Linked DNA regions of Homo sapiens. The protein of the gene in region 1 purifies or fractionates together with the protein of each later gene. This does not show direct contact. Each region holds a gene or a part of one and is shown in the gene's direction. Other genes may lie near its edges.

What was found.
Region 2: the proteins of TTC4 (region 1) and RASSF8 purify together in Homo sapiens (co-immunoprecipitation; one large-scale study listed by IntAct). This does not show direct contact.
Region 3: the proteins of TTC4 (region 1) and FBP2 purify together in Homo sapiens (co-immunoprecipitation; one large-scale study listed by IntAct). This does not show direct contact.
Region 4: the proteins of TTC4 (region 1) and OBI1 purify together in Homo sapiens (affinity purification with mass spectrometry, with the first as the bait; one large-scale study listed by BioGRID). This does not show direct contact.
Region 5: the proteins of TTC4 (region 1) and GNS fractionate together in Homo sapiens (co-fractionation; one large-scale study listed by BioGRID). This does not show direct contact.
Region 6: the proteins of TTC4 (region 1) and MYBPC1 purify together in Homo sapiens (co-immunoprecipitation; one large-scale study listed by IntAct). This does not show direct contact.
Region 7: the proteins of TTC4 (region 1) and NAXD purify together in Homo sapiens (co-immunoprecipitation; one large-scale study listed by IntAct). This does not show direct contact.

What each region holds. Positions count from the first base shown.
Region 1 is NC_000001.11:54,718,861-54,722,360, forward strand, and holds part of TTC4 (tetratricopeptide repeat protein 4), read left to right. Parts: intron 1-2,302; coding exon 2,303-2,380; intron 2,381-3,500.
Region 2 is NC_000012.12:25,961,682-25,965,181, forward strand, and holds part of RASSF8 (ras association domain-containing protein 8), read left to right. Parts: intron 1-3,500.
Region 3 is NC_000009.12:94,583,825-94,587,324, reverse strand, and holds part of FBP2 (fructose-1,6-bisphosphatase isozyme 2), read left to right. Parts: coding exon 1-18; intron 19-2,655; coding exon 2,656-2,748; intron 2,749-3,500.
Region 4 is NC_000013.11:78,617,656-78,621,155, reverse strand, and holds part of OBI1 (ORC ubiquitin ligase 1), read left to right. Parts: intron 1-3,500. UniProt on the Homo sapiens protein: E3 ubiquitin ligase essential for DNA replication origin activation during S phase.
Region 5 is NC_000012.12:64,752,907-64,756,406, reverse strand, and holds part of GNS (N-acetylglucosamine-6-sulfatase precursor), read left to right. Parts: intron 1-3,500. UniProt on the Homo sapiens protein: Hydrolyzes 6-sulfate groups in N-acetyl-d-glucosaminide units of heparin sulfate and keratan sulfate.
Region 6 is NC_000012.12:101,674,971-101,678,470, forward strand, and holds part of MYBPC1 (myosin-binding protein C, slow-type), read left to right. Parts: intron 1-321; coding exon 322-461; intron 462-2,264; coding exon 2,265-2,424; intron 2,425-3,131; coding exon 3,132-3,268; intron 3,269-3,500. UniProt on the Homo sapiens protein: Thick filament-associated protein located in the crossbridge region of vertebrate striated muscle a bands. Slow skeletal protein that binds to both myosin and actin.
Region 7 is NC_000013.11:110,618,545-110,622,044, forward strand, and holds part of NAXD (ATP-dependent (S)-NAD(P)H-hydrate dehydratase), read left to right. Parts: intron 1-3,500. UniProt on the Homo sapiens protein: Catalyzes the dehydration of the S-form of NAD(P)HX at the expense of ATP, which is converted to ADP.

The sequences.
Region 1 (3,500 bases):
AAGTGATCCACCTGCCTTGGTCTCCCAATGTGCTGTGTACTCAGTGGACCTTTTCAGTCTGGAAACTCATGTTTCTAGGACATTTTCCTGAATGCTTTGATATTTTTCTTTTTCTTTTTTACTCTTTTTTCTCTTTTTGGAAATCCTGGCTGCTGGTACTTTGGGAACCAAGTAGGAGAAGAGGACCAAGGGCTCAATCTTTAATATTTCCTTTACTGAATCACCTTTGTGCCTGGGGGTTCCAGTCCAGAGACCTACTGTTTTATTGTCTGCTAGGGTAAACCTCCAGTCCTCCACCTGGAGGAACAGGGGAGGAGTAGGTCACTGGTGCAGCAGAGGGGTAAGGAATATGGGACTCTGACTGCTTCTTAAGTAGATTTTCAACCCACCTTCACCCCCACTTCCAGAGGTACCTGGTGCCATCAGTTCCTGAGTCCTGAGTACTTTGTAGTTTCTGCAGTGCAGCTTGGTAGCTTTTGTGCTTTCCCTCTACTGGTTTAGAATTCAGTTTCCTTAAGCCTGATACATCAGTTACTTGTTCCTTTGTTTTCCAGCTTTCACAATGTGTTCTGTGTTCTTCTCATTTTCTTTGTCTTTATGGGAGAGAGAGTGGGGATTGAGTTAAATGTATGTGTTCAATCTGCCTCCTTTAACTAAAAGTCCTTGGATCCCTTTCATGTGCATTTTTTTCCATGGTTGAGATCCTGCTGTTCTTCCAGTTTGATATTCAGTTTTTTCACTTAATTTTATAACAAACAATTTCACCGTCATTAAAAATCATTTCTGAATGTTATTTCAATAGCTAAAGTTGCATCATATGGACATGCCACTATTTATACTGTTTGCTTTATTAGTCTGCTATTGTTGAGTATATAGACTGTTTTTTGGTTTTTATAAATAATGCAAAAATAAATAAAGTCATAATATTTTTCTGATAATTCTGATTATTCATTAGGCTAAAGCACGATTTGGCAAACTAGGACTCAGAGTCCACCCCTGGCCCCTTGGCTTGCCATGAACTAAAAATGTTCCATACTTTTTTTTTTTTTTTTTTTAAAGTGACAGGGTCTTACTCTGTTCAGGCTGGAGTGTACTAGCTGTGATCATAGCATAGTGCAATCTTAGACTCCTGGGCTCAAGCAATTCTCCCACTTCTGCCTCCCGAGTAGGTAGAACTATAGGCATGTACCACCATGCCCAGCTAATTTTTAAAAAATTTTTTGTAGAGAGAGAGTCTTGCTATATTGCCCAGGCTGGTCTTGAACTCCTGGTCTTAAGCAATCCTCTCACCTCGGTCTCCCATAGTGCTGGGATTGCAGGAGTGAGCCACCTCCCCAGAGGTTTCTTACATTTTTCAAGAATTGTAATAAAATGAAGAAGAATGTGCAGTAGACCACATGTGGCCTGCAACACCTAAAATATTTATCTGGCCCTTTACAAAATATTTTGCTGACCCCTGGGCTAGAGATTTAGGTAAATACTAAACCATTAAGTAATAATTATAGTATACTCCAGAAAGTTAAAGTATACCTCATGGCTTGCTAGTTTGGATAACTGGTATGTGTGTGACTGCATACTTTTTTTTTTTTTTTAATGCACTTACAAATATATACATGTGTGTCTAGATATTTAGTTTTTTTTTTTTTTTAAATAGGCTTCCTCTATACTCATAGAACCACCACTTAAAACAATATAGAACAGACATCCTACCGTGTTTCTTACATGAGGATCTATCTCATTCTTTTTAATGGCTGCATAGTATTCAATAGTATGGATTTACCATAATTCATGTAATCATTACCAAATTGAGGATATTTGAGTTATCTCCAGCTTTTCACAATTAAAGTAATGCTGTAGTTAACATGCTTTTACATTTATCCCTGCACATTTGTTCAAGTATTTTTGATAATTTTCCAGAAGAAAATTGTTGTGTCAAAGTATATGTACAAAATACATGCTAATTTGCTTTCTAATTTACCCTGAGAGTACCCCTTTTCCATATCTTTTCTAATACTAGATATTATTTGTCTAACTTTTAGCAATTTCTTAATTTTAATTTCCTAATCATTAGTGATGTTGAACGTCTTTTCATGTGCTTACTAGCCATTTACAGTTCTGTAGATTGCCTGTTATAGACATTTCTAAGGCTCTTGACAAGTACAACCATATTTTTTCAAAAAAACAGTTGCTCTCATTTGTATTTCCCCAGGATTGTACAAGAGTGTCTTTGTCACTACATATAAAATTTTGGAAACATTTTGATCTCAAAACTTCTCTCTTTTACTAAACGGTGTTTTGTTAGGCAATTTTCGTTCTGCTCTCAATGATGTGACAGCTGCCAGAAAGCTAAAACCCTGCCACCTCAAAGCAATAATAAGAGGTAAGTCTTGTGGAACTACAGTATGACATTTAAAGCTTTGATATGAAGGTGCTAGGATACTAATAAAGTCATCTTATTTTTGCAGTCTGGGTATTAAGTTCCTGTTCCTTATCAACAGCAACATGCCACTTTTAAAAGAATTCCTCAGAGAGTGACTTAACCCTTTATGTAATAATAATTTGTAGAGAACTAGAAGCCCCTCATTTTAAATTAATAAAAAATAAAATTAATTAAAACAAAGCAGTTGCAAAGCCATATTCTGATTTTTTTTCCAAATTAGCTGATTGAAAGGCAAGGTCTTCAAATGCCATGTTAATGTTAATTAAAAGATAAGTTATGGGACCTTTGCTGATGACTTTGGTGCTGAGATGTTCTCAGATTATGTTTTCTCTTGTAGTCTGACCTTTCTATGTAATAACAGTGCTTTTATTACTTTTATACTTCACCTTTTCTTTGAGAAGCTCATAGGTGCTTTGCAAACTTTAATTTATTCATCACATATTAATCTTCCCTGCATCCCCATGGACCAGCTTAAAATGCTTTTTCAAAATTATGCCTCTTTAAATGTTCATGGTTAAGGGCAGTAGGAAGATCCATGTCCCTCAGCTGTAGGAAAAGAAGGTACTGAACAAAGATTGGCTGATAAATTGAATCTAGGTAATCCTGTGGAATTTGCCTCAGGCTAGAAGTGTGTAATCCTTGATTCAGTTGTTGGTTTAATTTACAATGTGACCTTGGCAAGACACCCACTTTGAATATCAGTTTGCTCATCTCTAGAAGATGGGGTTAGAATCTGTTGGCATCTAAGCCCTTACAATGCTTATATTTTGAAATTCTGTGGAAAACCTAAAGAGGCTAACTGGAGAAAAATGTACATGATAACATGAAATTTTTTTTTTTTTTTTTGATGGGGGAGAGGCAGCTTAAACTGGTAGCCATAAAGAACAAAATTAGGAGACACCTAATGTTTTTGGCCTTGCCACTGCCTTGATGAATAGCTGAAGCAAAGTCTGCTTTTTCCCTCCATTGAAAAAATCATCTGGGATGGACTTTATTCTTCCTGTTTGCAGATGAGGAACCTAAAGCTTGGATATGCTTGGTCCTTTGTCTAAGGTCTAGC
Region 2 (3,500 bases), on another chromosome or scaffold:
AGAACATCTAATATATATTAGATGTGCCTGGCACATTTCAGCCAATAAATGACAACATCTCAAACTCCTTCAGAATTGAGCTCTTGGTCACTCAAACTTTCAAACTGTTCCCCCTCCATTTTTCATCTCATCCATCCAAGGAGTAGCTCACTCCACTCTCTCTTTTCTTCTATCAGCCCTAGCAAACCAGTCCATCATAAAGTCCTGCTGTCCATTTTTATTGCAAAATCTCTTTCAAACCGGTCTGATTTTCAGTCCCCACTATTCTGCCATCCTAATGCAAGCCACTGTACTGTATTATCTTTTTCCTTGGTGCGGTGCCTCCTGCACACACTCTGCACCCCTTGCAGTCTGTTTTACTACCAGCAGCCTGAAAAAAAAAAGAAAAAGTATTTGCCGTCTTAAAGTTGTCAGGGCTCTCAGGAAACACATTTATTTATTTTTGGGATAAGATACCAAATCCTTGACATTACTTCAGGATCCTGCATGATTTGATCTCTACATCCACTTGCATCTCTTGCTGTCATCTTGGCCAGTTCTCCAGCAGACTAGCCTCAGGCCTGTGGCTCATGCTGTTGGTCTCCCTATTTTAGGATCATCTCCTTGAGTAACTTATCATCCTTGGGTGCTAGCTCAAATGTCCTTTCTCATAAAGGTCTTCTCTGACAAGCCCACCCTTATCGTCATGCGAATTAAATGTCCTTTATTTTCTCCCTCATAGCGTAATCACTTTTGCTTCTGAATATTTACCACAATTTATATATTATTTAATCACTTAGGGTCCTTTTCTTGCCCTTTAGGTTAATATGAAGTTGATAATACCTGGTTTAATCACCAGTGCCCAGTATATGTAGTAGGTGCTCAATAAATATGTTGATATAATGAGTAAGATCGTAATATCAGTTTGTATCTTTATCTTTTTTTTTTGAAATGGAGTCTTACTATGTTGCCCAGTTGGTCTTAAACTCCTGGCCTCAAGTGATCCTCCTGCCTCAGCCTCCTGAGTAGCTGGGACTACAGGTGTGTGCCACCATGCCTGGCTTCTGTATTTGTATCTTGATTGCCTTCTTTATCACTGTTAAATTTGCTTTTCATGATAGAAAAGCCAGACCCACACTTTTCTATATTCCTTCTTTGCTGGTTATATGTATAATATGAAACGGCCTTTGCAAATATCAGGTAAAAATGCATGTAGGTTCTGTGAAATATTCGTAGTAATAAATTGAGACACCTTTTAATTAGTGTTACCCTTGTGACTTTCTGTTGTACATAATCCTTTTTCTAAATACATCATTAAAATAATTATTTTTTTATCAGCATAAGCTTACTGAAAGGAAAAAAAATCTTACTGTGCCTTACTATTTTACAGAGCGTCACATGATAACACGTTAGTCAGCTGCTGTCGGCTGGTGGTGCCAGACATCAAAGGAAGATTGGGAAAACTTTAGTAGAAAAACAAGACCTAGAGTTCTAAGGATGCTCAGTGCTGTCCAGCTGTTGATGTGACTTGCATGGTAACCAGACATCACTGGACCATACACTTAAGAGAGAGGAGGAGTTTTTTTTAAAAAAAGTGGGAGCCACCTAGAAGTCTGGAAGTTCTTTTCTTCTCTCTCACTAAAGCATTCCTTGTTTTAGCCAAAAAAAAAAAAAAAAAAAAAAGTCTCATGACCTTCCAAGGCCAAGGAAGGCTTACAGCTTTGAGTATTTTTGTCATGTGGTTGCTCTTTACGAAATATTAGCTTGATGTCCTCTAACTCTGAAGTACTTATGTCTGTTATTGATGTTTGTAATCTCTACTTCTTACATAATTCTGCATTTTTCTCTTGACTTGTTTTTTAGGACTTTAGTATTCCTTAAAAATCATTTCCTCACACCCTTAGAGTGTAGTTCTAGTTCTTTCTAGTTTTGTATCTTATAGATCACTGAGTGTGTGGGGGCACTTTGGAGCTGATTCAAGTCCTTCAGAACGTACTCCTCTGCAGTCCACCTCGGGGGTTCCCAAACTGTGATCCTTTGAGTGGTCTGGACCCTGAGGTTTCCGTAGCCTGGGTGCTCTTGGGTTGGGAGAGCAAGGAGGATGAAAGCAGCATTTTTGAGCCCCTGTTGGGTGCTCTCGAAGAGGAGGAGTGAGTAGTTTATCTGGTCAGAATTGGAAAAGTGAAGCTTAGGCTTTCTTTCCATATATTTGCTTCACAAAAGAAAATTGTTCCTTTTGTTCCTACATTTCCCCACTCCTGATTTTCTAGTCAGGAAGGCATGAGAAGAGAGAGATGCCCCTGCAAGCCAGACCCTTACCCTGGTGCTTATTTAGACCTGATTTTAAAAATGTTGAGAGCAAGCCCTGAGAGGGGCACACCAGGTGATTTGCCTCGTGTAGGCCCTCTGTGCCTGCAGGACATTCGCATCACGAGTAGCTGCCACTGTGGAGGAGAGGAAAGTTATGGTTGGGAACCCTTGTTATTTTTTTTCCACCATGTATATATGTCCACTGGTTACTTGGGTGACCTTGAACAAGTTGCCTTGAGCTTTTTAACACCAATAATATTTATTACCCATTTATTTCACAGACTTGCTATAGGATTTAGAAAGCTATTCTTAGCAAGTGTTTTTTTTTTTTTTTAAATCACATTCAGATATATCACAAAATATTGCAGTGAACTGTAGGGCTGTCCAAATTTTATGTATGCAGCAAAATATTTTCTTACTCATTAGCATATGTTTTACTCTTTGTTTTAAAAAGAAATCAGATGTAAATGCAGGTTATAACAAGAGGAGAGCTGTGATGGTTTGCTACCAGGTTTTATGTAGGTAATATATTTTGTCACTGTTGTTATATTTGGTCACTGTTGTTAGCTATCATTGGCTCGTGAGTGCTAAATCATGTTTATCCTTATAGTAATTTTACTATTGGAAAATCGCTTAAGACTAAATTATTCTTCCAGATACAAGTATATATGTTTAAAAGAAATTGGGATTCTCTTTAATGGATAGATATTGGGCAGAAAGTAAGGTTTTACCCTTATTTTTGCTTAAAATATTTGAGTGGATTTATAATCGATGAAACTCTACTGTAAAAATACCAGTGAGAAATAGGGATGTTTTGTAATGTTGAAGGTAAAATTTGTTCATTTCTATGGGAAGTTCTAATACGTTAAATGTCAGAATATCTTATAGTAGTTTATTTGTGCTGTATTTTTTCTTTTTAGTGTATAATGACTTCCCTTATATTTCTTTTTTTAAACAGCTTTATTTAATTAATTAATTTATATATTTTTTGAGACGGAGTCTTGCTCTGTCGTCCAGGCTGGAGTGCAGTGGCACGATCTTGGCTCACTGCAAGCTCCGCCTCCCGGGTTCATGCCATTCTCCCGCCTCAGCCTCCTGAGTAGCTGGGACTACAGGTCCCCGCCACCACGCCCAGCTAATTTTTTACATTTTTATTAGAGACAGGATTTACCATGTTAGCCAGGATGGTCTTGATTTCCTGACCTCGTGAT
Region 3 (3,500 bases), on another chromosome or scaffold:
ACCGCCAAGGAGAAGCGGGTGCGTCATGGGGCTGCGGTGCCCGCTCGCCAGTAGATGATGATACTGAGCCGGAAATAAGCTGCCTTACTTTTCTTTAATTCCCGGGATTCTCCTCTATTTCTTAACATTTGTTTTCTGGAAACAAAGGATTACATACTTCTCTACTTGGAAATCTTGTGCTGTCTAGAGAAAGAAGACTCCACAGTAGGACAGTGATTCATTCAGGAAATTGTTCAGAGTGATGCAGGAACCGCCTCAGTGGGCGCTTGTTCGTGGCTGTTCACTTAATCAGTAACAAGAGCCAAATTTTTGGGGGCTTAACCTTGTGGAGTCCAGGGAAGAGCTGTACTGTACAGCCTCTCACCGCCCCGCCTTCTCATTCCACCCCCGCCCCCAGCCGGCACTTTGCGAGGGGTTACAGTTTCAGCAGAGATTTCTTAGTGCCTGACAAGCTGTTAGACTGGTCCAGAAACAAAACCACAAGCCTCCTGTGCTCTTACCTCGTAGGATGGTGAAGTCGGTGAAGGAAGGCACGGCTGGGGAGGGTCTGCATTCACTATGGGTTCACACACAGCTTATTATACAGAGAGGTTTGCCAATGGCCAAAAGTTTCAATCAATGTTCAGCTGCAATATAGTCAATAGACAAGAGGCCATTTCTTTGTGATTAGCTGGAGGAATGGAAAAGAATTTAAAGTAAAGCCAAATTTATTTAACCTCTGCTCTATGCCAGGTACTGCAAAAGGCACTTTTGCCCTCGTCTCACATAATTTTAGCTACATCACACTATTACTTCCAACTTTCAGTTTCAGTTGATATGACTCTTGTTTCTCTCTCCAGTCTGATCTACCATTGTCTTCTCCTATTGGCCTAAGCCACATAGCCACATAGGTCTTCATGTCAGTTCCTTTATTTATTTATTTACTTATTTATTTATTTTTTTGAGACGGAGTCTTGCTCTACTGCCCGGCTGGACAGGCTGGAGTGCAATGGCGCAATCTCAGCTCACTGTAACCTCTGCCTCCCGGGTTCAAGCAATTCTCCCGCCTCAGCCTCCTGAGTAGCTGGGATTACAGGCATGCGCCACCATGCCCCGCTAATTTTTGTGTTTTTAGTAGAGACGGGGTTTCGCCATGTTGGCCAGGCTGGTCTTGAACTCTGACCTCAGGTGATCCACCCGCCTCAGGCTCCCAAAGTGCTGGGATTACAGGCGTGAGCCACCATGCCTGGCCCGTGGCAGCTCTTGAATACTCCAAACCTGCTGATCTCTCTGTCGAAAATTCTTCTTTCTAGGATGGGCGCGGTGGCTCACGCCTGCAATCCCGGTGCTTTGGGAGGCTGAGGTGGGAGGATTGCTTGAGCTCAGGAGTTTGAGACCAGCCTAGGCAACATAAAGATACAAAAGATAAAAATTTAGCTCGGCATGGTGGTGTGCACCTGTAGTCCCAGCTACTCGGGAGTCTGAGGTGGGAGAATTGCTTGAGCTCAGGAGTTTGAGACCAGCCTAGGCAACATAAAGATACAAAAGATAAAAATTTAGCTCGGCATGGTGGTGTGCACCTGTAGTCCCAGCTACTTGGGAGTCTGAGGTGGGAGGATTGCTTGAGCCCAGGATCTCTAGGCTGCAGCGAGCTCTGACCACACCACTGCACTCCATCCTGGGCAACAGAGTGAGACTCTGTCAAAACAAAACAAAAACAAGAAAACAAACAATTTTGCTTTCTAGGTCTCTGTGTGTTTCTTCATTCCTTAATTCTAGTCAGGTCTGTCATCAAATGTGACCCCCCCTCATGGCTCTCCAGCCCCCAGCCTATGTGGGTTTTCGTTAGGGCACGTGCCACAGCCTGCTTGTATGTGTCCTGACCTGTGTGCTCTCTGTCTGTTCTCCCACTGGAATGTCAGTGCCATGAAATCCAGCCTTGCTGCCGGGATCGCTGACCCCCCGGAAACAAACCCCAGGGCCTTGAACACTTACTTCCCAGCATATGCTGGAAGCTCAACATGTATCTGCTGAATGCATGCATGCATGAATGAATGGGCTAAATTGGATTTTTTTTTAAAAAATTGGATTATTATAGAGATGTTGGGGAATTTCCAAGTTTACAAATTATCTAACTTTTCTACTCTGGCTGAGCAAGGAAAAAAAACAGAAACAAAGCTCAAATGAAGCTAGGCCAATACTCATTGGAAAGTCAGGGAAAACTAAATCAAGTGGAGGGAGAAATGACCCTCATTTCTCTTGAAGTTGCATTACCCGTGTTTAATTGGCCTGGGGGTTCCGGTCGCCATCACTAAGGGTCTCTCGTGACCTTGCACACAGGGGGCTATAAAAAGGACCTGGGGCTTCCCTTGGTGGCTTGAGCTGCCTGTGACAGCAGAGTGGGTGGGTGTGGGGGACGTTGGTCTCTCAAGACACACCCACTTTATCTTCTGGTCTTCGCATCAGACAGGTGAGATGGATACAAAACCCAGAGGAGTATTTGTGTATAAACTGGCACCCTGCCCTCCGTAAGTCATGGTGTTTTTTGATAAAGATATGCTGTGGTTCTCAATCTCTTTTTGATGTGGTGTACTCTGCCACGCACAGCCCTGACACAGAGCAATTGTGCTAATGGGAAGATGTGCTGATCAGTTGGTGCTTTCCTCTCTGATTTAGGGGAAATACGTGGTCTGCTTTGACCCACTGGATGGATCTTCCAATATTGACTGCCTGGCCTCCATCGGAACCATCTTTGCCATCTATAGAAAGGTGAGTAGACAGGCTGACATTTTACACCTCCTTCCTGTGGTGGTCTCTGGAAGGTTCCTGGGCTGAAAACCGTGTGTTTGGAGTCCTACCCTTTGTCTTCCCACTAACGAGAAAAGCCACTGTAGGCAAACCACCAACTTTTCTCTGCCTGGGGCTCCTCATTAGAAGAACTGGATTGGCGATTCTTTCTCTGCCTACTTTCTGGCATTCCTGGGAGGGTAACACAGAAGGACAGCTGAGATCTTGTTTTGAAAGTCTGGGTGCAACACAAATGTCAGACATGGCATTAGGTTCCAGGTGGCATTCTGAATCTCTGACATCCTCTCCCCCTCTTGCCTCATCTCTCCTGTCCCCAGCCACAGAAAGTTTTCTGCTAACGCTCATTGGATTAGATTGAACTAATCTAACCTGGAAGGTCCACGGTGATCTCCCTATTTGAAATCTGAACCCCTGAGTACACCTGAAAAGTCTTTGTTGCCATGTAATGCTGGGTATTCACAGATCCTGGGGACTGGCATATCTTTTGGGCCATTCTGCCTACCCTGAAATCCTAGCAACAGAGAGCTGGGTGGGTTTGTGACATCCAGCAGGACTAGAAACTTCACAATTCAGAAAACTTGTCCTTCATTCTATATAAAGTGTACAACGGCAATAAAATCCATAGCAACCTCGCCAGCTGCGGTGGCTCACGCCTGTAATCCCAGAACTTTGGGAGGCTGAGGCGGGCGGATCACTTGAGGCCTTGAGGCTAG
Region 4 (3,500 bases), on another chromosome or scaffold:
AGGCCACACCACAAAAGCTGGTCCAGGTCCAAAGATAGCTTTCGCTTTGTTTCATTACCTCAGCTACCAAGTGAGGGAAACATATAAAGTCAAAGTTTGATGAGGCAAGTGGACTGACTTCCCCAATGTCCCCCTTGTTCCTCCTCAAGAAGGCATTTCTGAATTTTGGCAGTCTTGGCCACCCACTGGGCTTGCTGCATTTACCCATTTTGTTGGAATTGCCATTGAGAACCAGAAAGGCAAAGTGAATTGCTCAAGGATAGTAGCGTAGCACTAGAGCTTATTAGTTTTTTGGTACTCAGGTGTGGTATTCTTTTACCACATTTGTTTTCTTCAAACACGTCCTGTTTTTCTGTGTGATAGACTATGAGAAAATATGGTCTTAGGAACTTTTTGTTGTTAGAGATGCTCTTTAGTTTAGTTATACCACCTCAAAGGTCATACCAATAGGACTTCCATTTCTCTTTTACTAGGGACAGAAATGATCTTGTATCTCTTAGAGCTATTTGGACAAGGGGAACTGGCATCCTTTTCTCTCTCATCCAGAATGTATGTATCAGTTAATATTGCAAGCTGAAAAATCCTTTAAGCTTCTGTTAGATTCTGGCAGAATACAGTTCCGATATCAATTGTAGCTCCCAAACTGCTCTGCAGTGTTTTTTCTGGCACAATGAAGCCTTTGGCCATCACTGCTACTTTGAAAATCAAAGCCTTTTGGTCTCTAATGGAATGTTTATAAAAATACTCCATTTTGAAATTTACTCAAGAAAAGGAGGAAGTATGGTAAATGATATTAGAAATCCCTCCGGCTTGCCTTGGCATAGCTTCATTTAGTGTTGTATACTCCAAATATCTAGAATTAGTGTGAATACAAAAGTATTAAAACCCAAAGATAAATAAGCTCATGTCCTTCTTCTATGGAAGTATAGCATCAGATACTTATCCCTAATTGTTATTTCTCTATAATAAGGTAAATTGCCCTTTGCCAAATTTAATATAGTTATCTTGGATAAGCTGAAAATTTCCTGACACATGTCAAAAGTCTCATCTATTTGCAGTCTTACTAAGGTGAAGTTTTTTGGGGTGGAGCAGTATAGAATGTCAAGCCTGTAGCAAAAAAGGCTGTACTGTACATATGTCAGTCTCTGTTGCTTTCCTGGGTGTCAGTGAAATAAAGTAAACAGTCAAATGTAGTAAACAAAACATGTTTACTTTAGTAATACAGTGACTGTCATAATACTTAACATGTAAAAAGAAGGCCAAGGACCTTTAGCTTATCCTGTGGTGTCAACCCTGTCTCAATGTAAGGCACTAGTGTATCTTAAAGTAAGAGAATGACTTTTATTCAAGAAATACACAACAGGCAAGTGCCGTATACCAGGAATTGTTCTAGGAATCTGGCAGTGAATATAAGACAAACTACCTGCTCTCCTTGAGCTTCTATTCTAACGTGGGAGAAAGAAAGCAAATAAATTACATGAATTGATTAATTGATCAGTTGCATGGCTTTTAGTATACATTTCTGTCAGTCTGCCAACCAGCACAGGTCCCTTATTAGCATGGGAGAAGGGCCTGATCACTGAAAGTATTATAGATTTATAGAGTATTGAAAGGAAACTTAAGGAAATTGGGGGCAGTGGCCTTTTAGAAAACAGCCTAACTCCATCAGTGACTTCTGCTTGCTTGTGCCTCTCATATGTGATCTGCTACTGGCCTTTGTTACTTCTCTCTGAAATAACACAAAAATTATGTTTAGGGCTCTCATTGACTTCAACTCCAAACCATATGTTACTTCTTTTAAAAACATAATTTCTAAAAAAAAAAAATATATAGAGAGAGAGAGGCAAATACAGTATCTTAAGATGATACTATATTTGAAATTCCAAGCTAAAACCCTGGAACAAGAAGCTGGTAATATTTTGGGAAGCATTCTTTATTTTTGAGTAGTCTTTCTGTGTGTAGGCCTCTAAGTTCCCAAAGATATCCTTTGGTAGCAACTGACTTACTATGTAGTAGCATTATTTGATTTTAAGTCATTTGATTTTTTTATCTGAGGAGATACCTTTATTATAAAAAATTTTACTTGAAGAAATTTATCTTGATAAGCAAATGTAAGGCTGTCACTTTTGCTTATTGGCATTAAATAAACATACTACAGTTTTTCCATTTAAAAATGTGGGTTATTTGATTATGCCAGAGTAGTTACAATCAAGAACTAACAAACATTTGTACTTAATGTACTGAAAGGTCTTTGCCCACTTTTTAAAAGTTCTCTTGCAGAACTACAACTCTGTGAAGTACTACATTTATAAGCCAAAACATTTTTAACAAAGAAGAAAAATTCCCATCATTCATTTAACCAAATACAGTAGTAAACTTTGTCTTTAAAATGGGGAGGCTTGTTATTATAGTTGCTTTTGTTTTTGTTATACCTGTGGTTTTTGCTGTGTTTTTTTAGAAGTTGAAGGGAGCGTGCTCTCTCTGGGGGTTCAGTTAATTGCAGTGAGTAAATCAATATTCAGCAATCATGTCTTTTAAAGCCCTTTCTAATCTTGAGATTTTATGATTCTATATTTACCTTTGCCTCTGCTTTTTCCTTCAGTGATAAGAGTGCAGGGATTATGTAGGGGTTGAGATGGGGAATGAATTGGGCTAGTGGTTTAGGAGGTGATGGGCATTAAGTGGGAGTTGAAAACATGTTGTGGTTGATTCTAAGAGGGGCAATTGCTATTGGCTTCTGCTTTTTTTGTAGTTTTTTTTTTCAATACTAAATACATGTTCTTAATTGTAATTATTTTTCAAATTAGGGGAAAAAAGGAAGAAAAAGATAAACCCAAAGATAAAAATAATTTTTGAAAGTCACCTTCTCATAGCTTCCTCCAAACAGACAATCCCTTAATTCTTAGAAATGGGCCAATATATAAATCATCAAAAAGATGATTAAGAATAGGCTTTGAAAAGAATTTTGGAGGAGATAAGGTATTTTTCACGGGATTATGTTATTTATTGGCTCATAAGTTTCCTGAAAGATAGAATTTATTTTTGGTGATAAGATTGAATTTAAGGTAGATATTTTATGTCCCTTGGAGCTAGACAGTCTTTTTTATCTTTTGTGTTCCCAGCCCCAAATATACCACCTAACCTATACTAGGTACTCAAAAATTGTTTCCTGAGCTTAACACAGTACTCATTCTTGGTGGAAATAACAGCAAGATAATCCCGGTGTAAAAGGAGTAGACTTTTTGTGAATAAGGGAATTCTTTTTCAGTCACTCTCCAAAATGTTCTCTTTCAGAAAGTGTACAAAAAAATTTTTTTTTTTGCCTAGTATATTGGAATCACAAGCACTGACTTCATATTTCAAAGTTGAAAGAAATGAGATAGATGTCCCACACAGCTGTAAAATGCCAAAAATAAGTAGTGCTGACATAAATTAAAGGCCAGTGCTCTGAAAAGCCACAGAAAAGCTTCAGATCAAGGGTGGCTATAATTGAAAGGGCC
Region 5 (3,500 bases), on another chromosome or scaffold:
TGCAGGTGACATTCGGGGATGCCAGTGACATCATGGAACTCCTTAATTTACATGTAAAACTTTGTGTATAATATCTTCATTTTTGTGGAAAGAGCTCTAACCTAAAAAAGATTACAGATTGCTGCCATAGTTGGCAAAATAAATAGTGGTTAACCCCCACCAATCTCACTCAGGTCAAAGGATTGTATATAGCATTTACAACATGATTTAGATTTATAGTGGAATTTTTCAGGCATCTTTGAAATGCTCTTTTATATAGTAGCATCGTCTTTAACATTTCATTGTATTTGTTCCAGGTATCTGTGGGACTCTGTTTTTATTTTTTATTTTGCCAGGACACTGTTCTTATCACTTTCTTGATTTTATTTAAACATCATTATAGTGTGGTGGACACACTGTTCTTCACAGAAGCATAAGCTGCTCTTTTAAAAATAATTCATGGCCGGGCGCGGTGGCTCACGCCTGTAATCCTAGCACTTTGGGAGGCCGAGGTGGACAGATCACGAGGTCAGGAGTTCAGGACCAGCCTGGCCAGCATGGCGAAACCCTAAAATACAAAAATTGGCCGGGCATGGTGGTGCGTGCCTGTAGTCCCAGCTACTCGGGAGGCTGAGGTGGGAGAATCACTTGAACCCAGGAGGTGGAGGTTGCAGTGAGCTGAGATTGTGCCACCGCACTCTAGCCTGGGTGACAGAGCAAGACTCCATCTCAAAAAAAAAAAAAAAAAATCATTTACTCTAAGAAAAGTGACATTTGGCCAAAACCACAGGCAAGTGAAAGAAGAAACTATGATGAAAGGTAGGGGAAGAATAATTTTTTTTTTTTTTTTGAGTTGGAGTCTTGCTCTGTCACCCAGGCTGGAGTGCAGTGGCGCGATCTCGGCCCACTGCAACCTCCTTCTCCTGAGTTCAAGAGATTCCCCTGTCTCAGCCTCCCAAGTAGCTGGGTTTACAGGCACCCACCACCACGCCCGGCTAATTTTTGTATTTCTAGTAGAGACGGGATTTCACCATGTTGGCCAGGCTGATCTTGAACTCTTGACCTCAAGTGATCCGCCCACTTCAGCCTCCCAAAGGGGTGGGATTACAGGTGTGAGAATAAATATGTCATTGCTTCACTGAAAGCAAAACAATTTCCATTGTTAGCCACAGAATTATCAGAATTGTCGTTTCAGAGCAACTGTGCATGGAACCAGGAAAGTAAATGATTCTTTAGGGTTTTAATGAAAAGGGTTCTGCTTGGGGTGAGTAGAGTAACATGTTTGCCCACATGAAGGCATGAAGTTGGCTGCTGCTTAAAGACTGTTGCATGGCCTTAACTTGACCAGCCACTGTCTTTGCTTCGATCTTAAGGATTCATTTTACATTCTAATTAGCATAGAGACACATGACACATTTTGAGTAGTGTGGTTTCTTGTTTGGGACTTTTTCAATTAAGCACGGATTATGGTTGTCTTTTGTACTATAGTTAGCAGTATAAAGATGGCAGTTAATAAAAACTTCTTTTTTTTTTTTTTGGAGACAAGTTCTCACTCTTCTTGCCTAGGCTAGATTGCAGTGGTGCAGTCATAGCTCACTGCAGCCTCGAACTTCTGGGCACAAACAATCCTCCCACCTCAGCCTCTTAAGTAGCTGGGACTACGGGCATGCACTACCATGCCCAGCTAATTTTTATATTTTTTGTAGAGCCAGGGTCTTGCTGTGTTGCCCAGACTGGTCTCAAACTCCTGGCCTCAAGCAGTCCTCCTGCCTCTGCCTTCTAAAGTGCTGGGATAACAGGTGTGAGCCACTGCACCGGGCCTAAAGTCTAAATTCCTATGTGGCCCTGCATCACTGACTCCTGCCTGCCTCTCTGACCTCATCTTACCTCACTCTCCCTTTTCCTCCCTAAGCTGCTTCCATCACCACACTGGCTTCTCTGTTTCCTCCCAGGTGCCTCTCTCCTTCCTCTGGCAGCCCTTGTACTTGCTATATACCCAGCCTGAAACATCTTCTGAATTTTTGCATGACTGACTCCTCATCGCATGGCTCTCCGTACTGAAGTTACCTCCTGAGAGGCCTTTTCTGACCACCCATCTAAAGTAGTTCCCCTTTCTTCCCACCAGCTGTAATCACATCATCCTGGTTTATTCTCTTCATAGCACTTACCACCACCTGAAATGACTGATTGTTTACCTGTTAGTTGTTTTAAGTCCCCAAGAGTGCAGAGATCATGAGGGCGAGGACCATCTATCCTCTGTCCACCACTGCCTAGATTAATGCCTGGCACGTGTTGTGTTTAATAAATGTTATTACACAGTCTTACTGTAAATCAGATATTCTTTCATAATTTTACATATTTATCAGACAGTTTGACAATTAAGTCCCATACAGTCAACTCTGGTCCTTTTCTCCACTTACTCTTTGAATCCTCATTTCACCTTCAAATGTCCTCACAGTAACTCAGGTGTTTTATCAAACCAATGTCTCATGAAGCCCAGTATTCTTTTCCTGAGGATGGTACCCAGTGATGCTTTGAGGAGAGTATGGCTGACGACCTTGCTTCGGAAGGCTGGCGAAGATCTTCTGCTTCTCTAGCGTCTCTTGGCAGCCTCTTCTGGATCTACTCATGAAATTATCAGAGCTTTTTTTGGATAAGTTAGAATCCTCATCCTTTTGAGTTTATGGATTCCGTAGGTTTTGTATTTATATAAAACAATGGGGAAAAGTCATTTATACATTATTGAAAATGAGGCTCCTGTTAACCTACTTATGTATTTAGATTAGCAATCTTTAAGGAATTATTGCACAACAAAATATACTTAAAACTGCATTCAATATGGTCTTAGGTTTCAAAGGTATCTCAGAATCATCGTGAACTGACCCATATTACAACTAAAATGACCTCTTCAATGGTGCTTTTTGCTGTCTGGAATCTGAAGAATATTAGTGTTCCTTTTATTCGTATTTAAATGACTGTCTTCATACTTTTGTCCTCATTCTAGAAGGAAGTTAATTGTTCTCTGTACTTGTAAGGATCTTAGATTTTGAACAAAAGATGAAAAGCAGGACATAAAATAGTTTCTGAGTAGCCTTTTGCCTGACAGTGTTCTGTGTACACCTGCTTGCCACCTGGTTCAAGTCCTTATCCTGAGGTGCTTGTGGGTCTATGCAGACAACAGTAGTTGGTAGTTGAACAGTGTGTGTCTGGCCTCCACCACTGAGTGTGTGAGGTTTGAATCAGTCTCGGAGTCCTGGGGCCTTGTCTGGCTTTCAGAATCCAACTGTTGTCTTACTTCTGTTCTATAGGGCGGAAGGCTCCCTTTATATCATTTCCCACATCCTACTTCTAAAGATTAATTCATGGAGATAGGTCTGCCCTATCTGCCTTATCTGGGCGCTGATGACTAATAAGGGCACAAAGATGTTATTGCCATCAACTGAACTTTCCCTTCCTGCAAGCATTTTGACTTCCTGCACTTTTATACAGGATGGAGCTGGCCGGAACCAAACTTGTCTCTA
Region 6 (3,500 bases), on another chromosome or scaffold:
TGCTCTAACCAAAGGGGCAACTTCCTGTAACAGCCTCCCTTAAAGGGTCATTCCCTTTAAACTAAGCACTCTTTCCCCACTGGCTAATCCGTTTTGAGTTTTGTTAAGTTGCAGGGAGTGTTGAGGCTGCTCTGTGCCCTTTGATCTGGCCTGGCTCCATACTACTGGAAGGCAAAGGGTCTCAGAAGCCCCCATGGTAGGGTCTAGAAGAGTGATGCCTCCTGTAACAGAGGAAAGGGTCTTTTAAAATATCCTCATGAAACAAAATGTAGACTGGGAAAGAAAGTGACCTTGCAGTGACACCATGAATTCATCCTGTAGACCGTCCAGGTCCACCCCAAATTGTGAAGATTGAGGATGTCTGGGGAGAAAATGTCGCTCTCACATGGACTCCACCAAAGGATGATGGAAATGCTGCTATCACAGGCTATACCATTCAGAAGGCTGACAAGAAGAGCATGGTAAGGTCTGGCTTTCTCTGGTTCATCAGTAGCAAAAGGCACATTTCATCAGAGGTAAAGGAGATGGCACAAGGGCCTCACTGGTAAGGAGCCAACTGGGGCTATGGAGAAGTGATGTGGCAGAGCAGAAAGGAAAAGACCTGTGGAGCCACAGAGCTGGTCTTAAACCCCAGCATTGCTACTTAAGACCACATGTATAAGGACCACACGTGACCACAATCACTTGAGCTCTTTGATCTCTATTTTCCTCATCTATGTAATGGGGGCACAAATATCCCTTGCTTGATTATTACAAAGCTAAAATGATATAAAGCAACTGGTTCAATGTTCAGTAGAATTCAATAAACTCATTCATTCAACAAATATTTGCTCAAGACTTTGACTCAGATTTACACCCATGCAACTCTTTCTCCTTGTGAAATAAATGTTGGATACTGTGCACTTATGTCTACAAAAAAGTAAAAAGACAGACACCAGTTAGAACAGAAAGATTCTACAAGGTTACAGCATGTGCAAATGCGGAAAGGTCTGGAGAAAAAGAGCTTAATGCAAACTTGTCCAACCCGTGGCCCACAGGCCTCATGCAACCCAGGATGGCTTTGAATGCAGCCCAACACATATTTGTAAACTTTCTTAAAACGTTATGAGTTTTTTTATGATTTTTTTTCAGCTCATCAGCTATCGTTAGCGTTAGTCTATTTTATGTGTGGCCCAAGACAATTCTTTTTCCAGGGAAGCCAAAAGATTGAAAACCCCTGGCTTAATGTGTTTAAAAAGCAACCTAGTTGGAGTATGACTTATTATAAACTTATTTTATAGATGAGGAAACTGAGGCTTGCAGAGGATAAATGACTTGCTAAAGATCACCAGATTTTCTCACGCCTGAAATCCCAGCTACTTGGGAGGCTGAGGCAGGAGAATTGCTTGAACTCGGAAGGTGGAGGTTGTAGTGAGCTGAGATTGTGCCACTGTACTGTAGCCAGGATGACAGAACAAGACTCCATCTCAAAAAGAAAAAACAGAACCAAAGTTAATAATATCAGCTGGGAGCAGTGGCTCATACCTGTAGTCCCAGCACTTTGGAAGGCTGAGGCAGGAGGATTGCTTGAGCCCAGGAGTTTGAGACCAGCCTGGACAACATAGGGAGACCTCCTCTCTCTAAAAAATAAATTAGCTGGGTGTGGTAGCACGTGCCTGTAGTCCCAGTTACTCGGGAGGCTGAGGTGAAAGGGTCTATTGAGCCCGGGAGGTCAAGACTATAGTAAGCCAAGATTGCATCACTGCACTCCAGCCTGGGTGACAGAGTGAGATCCTGTCTCAAAAAGAAAAAAAAAATAATAATGTTAAATAAATGTACTGGATATTACTAATGTTTCTCTAGTGATTTAGCTTCAGGTCTTTCTCATAATAAGTTGGCACTAAAATTCTGTAGTTATACTTTATTCTACAAAAGATAGCTAGGAAGACAAATAGGTAGGTAGACAGGTAGATAAATAGATGACAGACACCTAAAGGTTATGAAAAAATATAAAGATAGTAGATGGCAACTAGGGTATATGAATCTAATGTGTAAATGAAGATTAAATTACATAGTCAATTGCAAATAAGTTGTGAAATATTAAACAAAATATACATTGTTTCAACACATTTTAACAACATATATTATTACTCTCCATATAAAAATGAGTGGTCTTTTTTTCTTTTTGTTAATAAAGCATCCTTGTTATTTATCCCAATCTACAGTTAGAAAAATTGTATACTTTTAGGTGATTTTCCTCCAGTTATTATTTTTTTTTCTTTTAGGAATGGTTTACTGTCATTGAGCATTATCATCGAACCAGTGCCACCATTACTGAATTGGTCATAGGGAATGAATATTACTTCCGGGTCTTTTCTGAAAACATGTGTGGCCTCAGTGAGGATGCCACCATGACTAAAGAGAGTGCAGTGATCGCCAGGGATGGTGAGTTGGGAATGGACTGACATTTGAAAACCTTGGTTGACAGTGACCAGACAGAGAAGACTGGAAAAAGAGATGTGGTGAAAGGGAACAAAAAAATGGTAAATGTACATTGTAAAATTATGATAATGGTGTTCAAGTAAAATTTTAATTTTACAGGTAAAATTTAAGTGAAATTGTATTATTATTGCATTTTTTACAAATATAGGCTTTAATTAATTCCAGGTTCTAGGCAGTGGATCTATAAATGGCTAATACCCCAGAGGCTGGAAGAAGTAGACATTTTCTTCTAGAGTTTCTACTTTTATTCTTGGACACCTTTATTGTAGCTACACATGGGACCCACTCTGTGATAAAAGGAGAAACTAAATTCTATCCTTATCTTTTCTTTTCATCATAAACCACTCTTCTTAAAACCTTCCTTGTGTATTTTCACATTAGAACAAATTTCTATTCAAAATACTCAGAAAGACACCAAAGTCTTCTCAATATCTGGTTCAGTTTCAGATGACCCCTCTGGCTTTCTATCCCACGTGTGATTGGCTATACGTTTATACCCCTCAGAATGTTTGCCACATGGCATTTGCTCATCTTTGTCCATGTTTTTCTAAGTTCAGGGAAGTTTTAATCATGTGTAAAGTATGCCACCAATAATATATTCTCAGGCCAATTTACATAATTTTAACATATTTGTAATGCTTGTTTTTAAGGTAAAATCTACAAAAATCCAGTGTATGAAGACTTTGATTTCTCAGAGGCACCCATGTTTACTCAGCCTTTGGTTAACACCTATGCCATAGCTGGTTACAATGCCACCCTAAACTGCAGTGTGAGAGGAAATCCTAAGGTACCATGTTCTTCTATCACATCAGTTAAAGTCCCTGTCTTGTATTTGTTGTGTTATAATGTAAGTAACAATGTAAACAAATCCAGCTGCTACTTGTGTCTTCCCAGGATGGGGGATTAGAAGGTGGTAGTGGTGGTAGATTATTAGGCACACTATTCAGATGTAGTAGTAAAAAATGCTTACATTTCTTTGCTAAGGGATTCCTTCTAAAGAAAAAGCAAACCACCTATTT
Region 7 (3,500 bases), on another chromosome or scaffold:
GTTTTACACACTCAGAATTGATATTTTTGGCTTGTGGTAAATGGGACTTTAATGCTTAACCTGCTGTAGAAAAATCCGCCTTAGAAAGTGGCCCTTATTCGTATATTGTATTCGATGTTTGAGCCCCCTGATATCTTATCATTTTAACAAAGCTTACCTTGAAGTGCAGGAAAAATTGTATGTGTTCTTGTCATTATTTGAATAACAACAAAAATCAGTATTAGCTTTAAAGCCTGTAGGTTTTAAGCGTATCCTTGCCTGGACTAGCATATCTCCTCTTTCTCAACCAAAAAGATCAGAAAGGTGCTATCCCAGTACCAAAAGTACTGGGAGGACTTTCAGCAGAGTGTGACGCAGAAGGGAAGCTTTTCCGCTCTGGGGAGCAGATGCGGAGAGGACAAGCACTTGGAACACAGCATCCCTGGGAGCTCTGGTGCTGCAGTTGTGACCCCGAGGCGGCCCTGCTGTGCCCTCCTGGGAGTGCTGGGCGACACTGGTTGCAGAGGGGCATTGGTGCTCCCCTCCACCTGACAGGTGCTCCACCTGGACTCGTGGCTGCAGCTTAATTTTGTGTCAGATCCTTTCCGGTAATGTATAGGTTATTTCAACTATGAGGCAAAGTGCAAATGGGTAGTTCAGTGTGGGTTTATGGTATTTGCCCTTTTTGATATAAACATTAAATATTTCATACCTCACCTATAGTACTTTTTTTAAGACTTAAATCTGAAATTTAAGATACAGATGTTTGTAAGATATGAATCTTGGATATTGGGAGAAAGAAGCCTCCTGGAAAATATACAGTATTATCTGGTGGAACCATTTTATTCCTTTTCTTATTGTGAGAAATACACATTTATGAAGTATTACCATTTAGGAGTTGTTTTCATCAGGCAGGGTACATTGATATAAATGTTGATTTTTAACATCCGTAAGTTGAAGTCTGACTAAATTGTTTTTCTCTGTGATTTCATAAGTCACAATTTATATTTTATATGACCTTAAATATTTAATTTGAAGTACTGGTATATTTAAAGGTGCTAAAACTACACGCATGCATCTCTACTAGTGGTTCTTAACCCAGGCTCATTTTGCCCCATCCAGAAGACATTTGGGAGTGTTGAGATATTGCTGGTTGTCACCACTGGGTGCGTGTACATGCACTGCTGACTGGGTAGAAGCCGGGGATGCTGCTCAGCATCCTTCAGTGCATAGAACAGCTCCCCACGACAAAGACAGGATGCTGATCGATACCCATAAATGTCTTTTTTTTTGAGACAAGAGTCTCGCTGTGTCACCCAGGCTGGAGTGCAGTGGCATAATCTTGGCTCACTGCAGCCTCCACCTTCTGGGTTCAAACAGTTCTTCTGCCTCAGCCTCCCGAGTAGCTGGAATTACAGGCATGCACCACCGTGCCCAACTAATTTTTGTATTTTTAGTAGAGATGGGGTTTCACTATGTTGGCCAGGCTGGTCTCGAACTCCTGACCTCAAGTGATCCACCCACCTTGGCCTCCCAAAGTGCTGAGATTACAGCGGGGAGCCACTGCGCCTGGCCCCATAAATGTCTCTTCTAGACAAGTGTATTGTTTTAAAACCATAATTTAGCCCTCCTGGAGGGATTTCAAGGATGGGTGCATTGGTCCCCTGCAGGTAGCTCAGCAAGCTTCATTGTGTCTCTCCTTGGCCCACAGTTTATAGTGATTCTGTGCCGGGTCTTGTGTGTTGGTCTGGAAGAAGGTGAAAAGATTTGGGGTTGGGCTGAGCGCGGTGGCTCACACCTGTAATCCTAGCACTTTGGGAGGCCGAGGTGGGCAGATCACAAGGTCAGGAGATCGAGACCACCCTGGCCAACATGGTGAAACCCCGTCTCTGCTAAAAATACAAAAATTAGCTGGGCGTGGTGGCATGCGCCTGTAGTCCCAGCTACTCAGGAGGCTGACGCAGGAGAATTGCTTGGACCAGGGGGTCGTAGGTTGCAGTGAGCCGAGATTGTACCACTGCACTCCAGCCTGGCGACAGAGTGAGACTCTGTCTCAAAAAAAAAAAAAAAAAAGAATTTGGGTTGATGGGGATTCATAGGATCTTTTTATCTTGGGGAATCCCAGCATCTGCTCTATCAGCTAAGGCAGTTACATCTACTCATAAAGAAAATTCCTTCAAAAGTTTTGTTGAGTAAAAAGTAAAACTGTAAGAGTTAAAAGACAAAGCTCTTTTGCTGTGAAACGCTCAGTGAGCTTTGGACTGCAGTCAGTGGAACTTGTGACACTGGTTTTTCTCTGCTGCTGAGATAATTGGAAGGATAAAAATATTGAGTGCCTTGTTTGAAAAAATACTGTTTATATTTGCAAAGATCCTTTCATTCTAGGGAGAATGTATGCTTTATTCATTGAGCTCTATAGAACATACCAGCATTTCTCTCATAGCCGAGCTGTTTTAAATATTAAGGTAAAATATATAACACAGGAAGCTCTTCAAGAAAGGCCAATTGAAGTGTAGCTGTTTAGAGACAACTCAAGATGATGAAAATACATTAAATGCCACTTTGAACCCAATTTAAGAGGTGTGCCATATTTAGAATGCCATTTCTAGGTTATTTAATTAATACCCAGTTGAGTGTTGGAATACAGTTGGGAGTAATATGATGAATCTGTCAGACTTCTGAGCACCCCAGCGGATTACAGGTGGGAGCTTGCTTTCCAGTTTGTGAGGAGAGAAAAGACCTAATAATCCTAAAGGGAAATTGAAATGAAGTGATAGTTTATTAAGTAATAATGCATTTTTTTACTTGATAAAACTTTCTGGAAAATTAAATGGTCTTCCAAAATTTCAGATACATTTCAAAAATAAACCTGATAGAAATAGCATATGTTGTCCTGGTGGGGTGGCTCATGCCTGTAATCCCAGCACTTTGGGAGGCTGAGGCGGGCAGATCACTTGAGGTAAGGAGTTGGAGACCAGCCTGGCCAACATGGTGAAACCCTGTCTCTACTAAGAATACAAAAATTAGCAGGGCAGGGTGGCAGGTGCCTGTAATCCCAGATACTCCGGAGGCTGAGGCAGGAGAATCGCTTGAACCCAGGAGGTGGAGGTTGCAGTGAGCAGGATCGTGCCACTGCACTCCAGCTTGGGTGACAGAGCTAGACTCTGTCTCAAATAAATAAATAAATAGCATGTGTTACTATATGTGTTAATTACATGTGTTCAGGCTGGGCATGGTGGTTCACGCCTGTAATCCCAGCACTTTGAGAGGCTGCAGCTGGCAGATCACTTGAGGTCAGGAGTTCTAGACCAGCATGGCCAACATGATGAAACCCTATCTCTACTGAAAATACAAAAATTAGCCAGGTGTGGTAGTAGACACCTATAATCCCAGCTGCTCAGGAGGCTGAGGCAGGAGAATTGCTTGAACCTGGGAGGCAGAGGTTGCAGTGAGCTGAGATCACGCCACTGCACTCCAGCCTGGGTGACAGAGTCAGAGTTCGTCTCAAAAAAGAAAAAAAA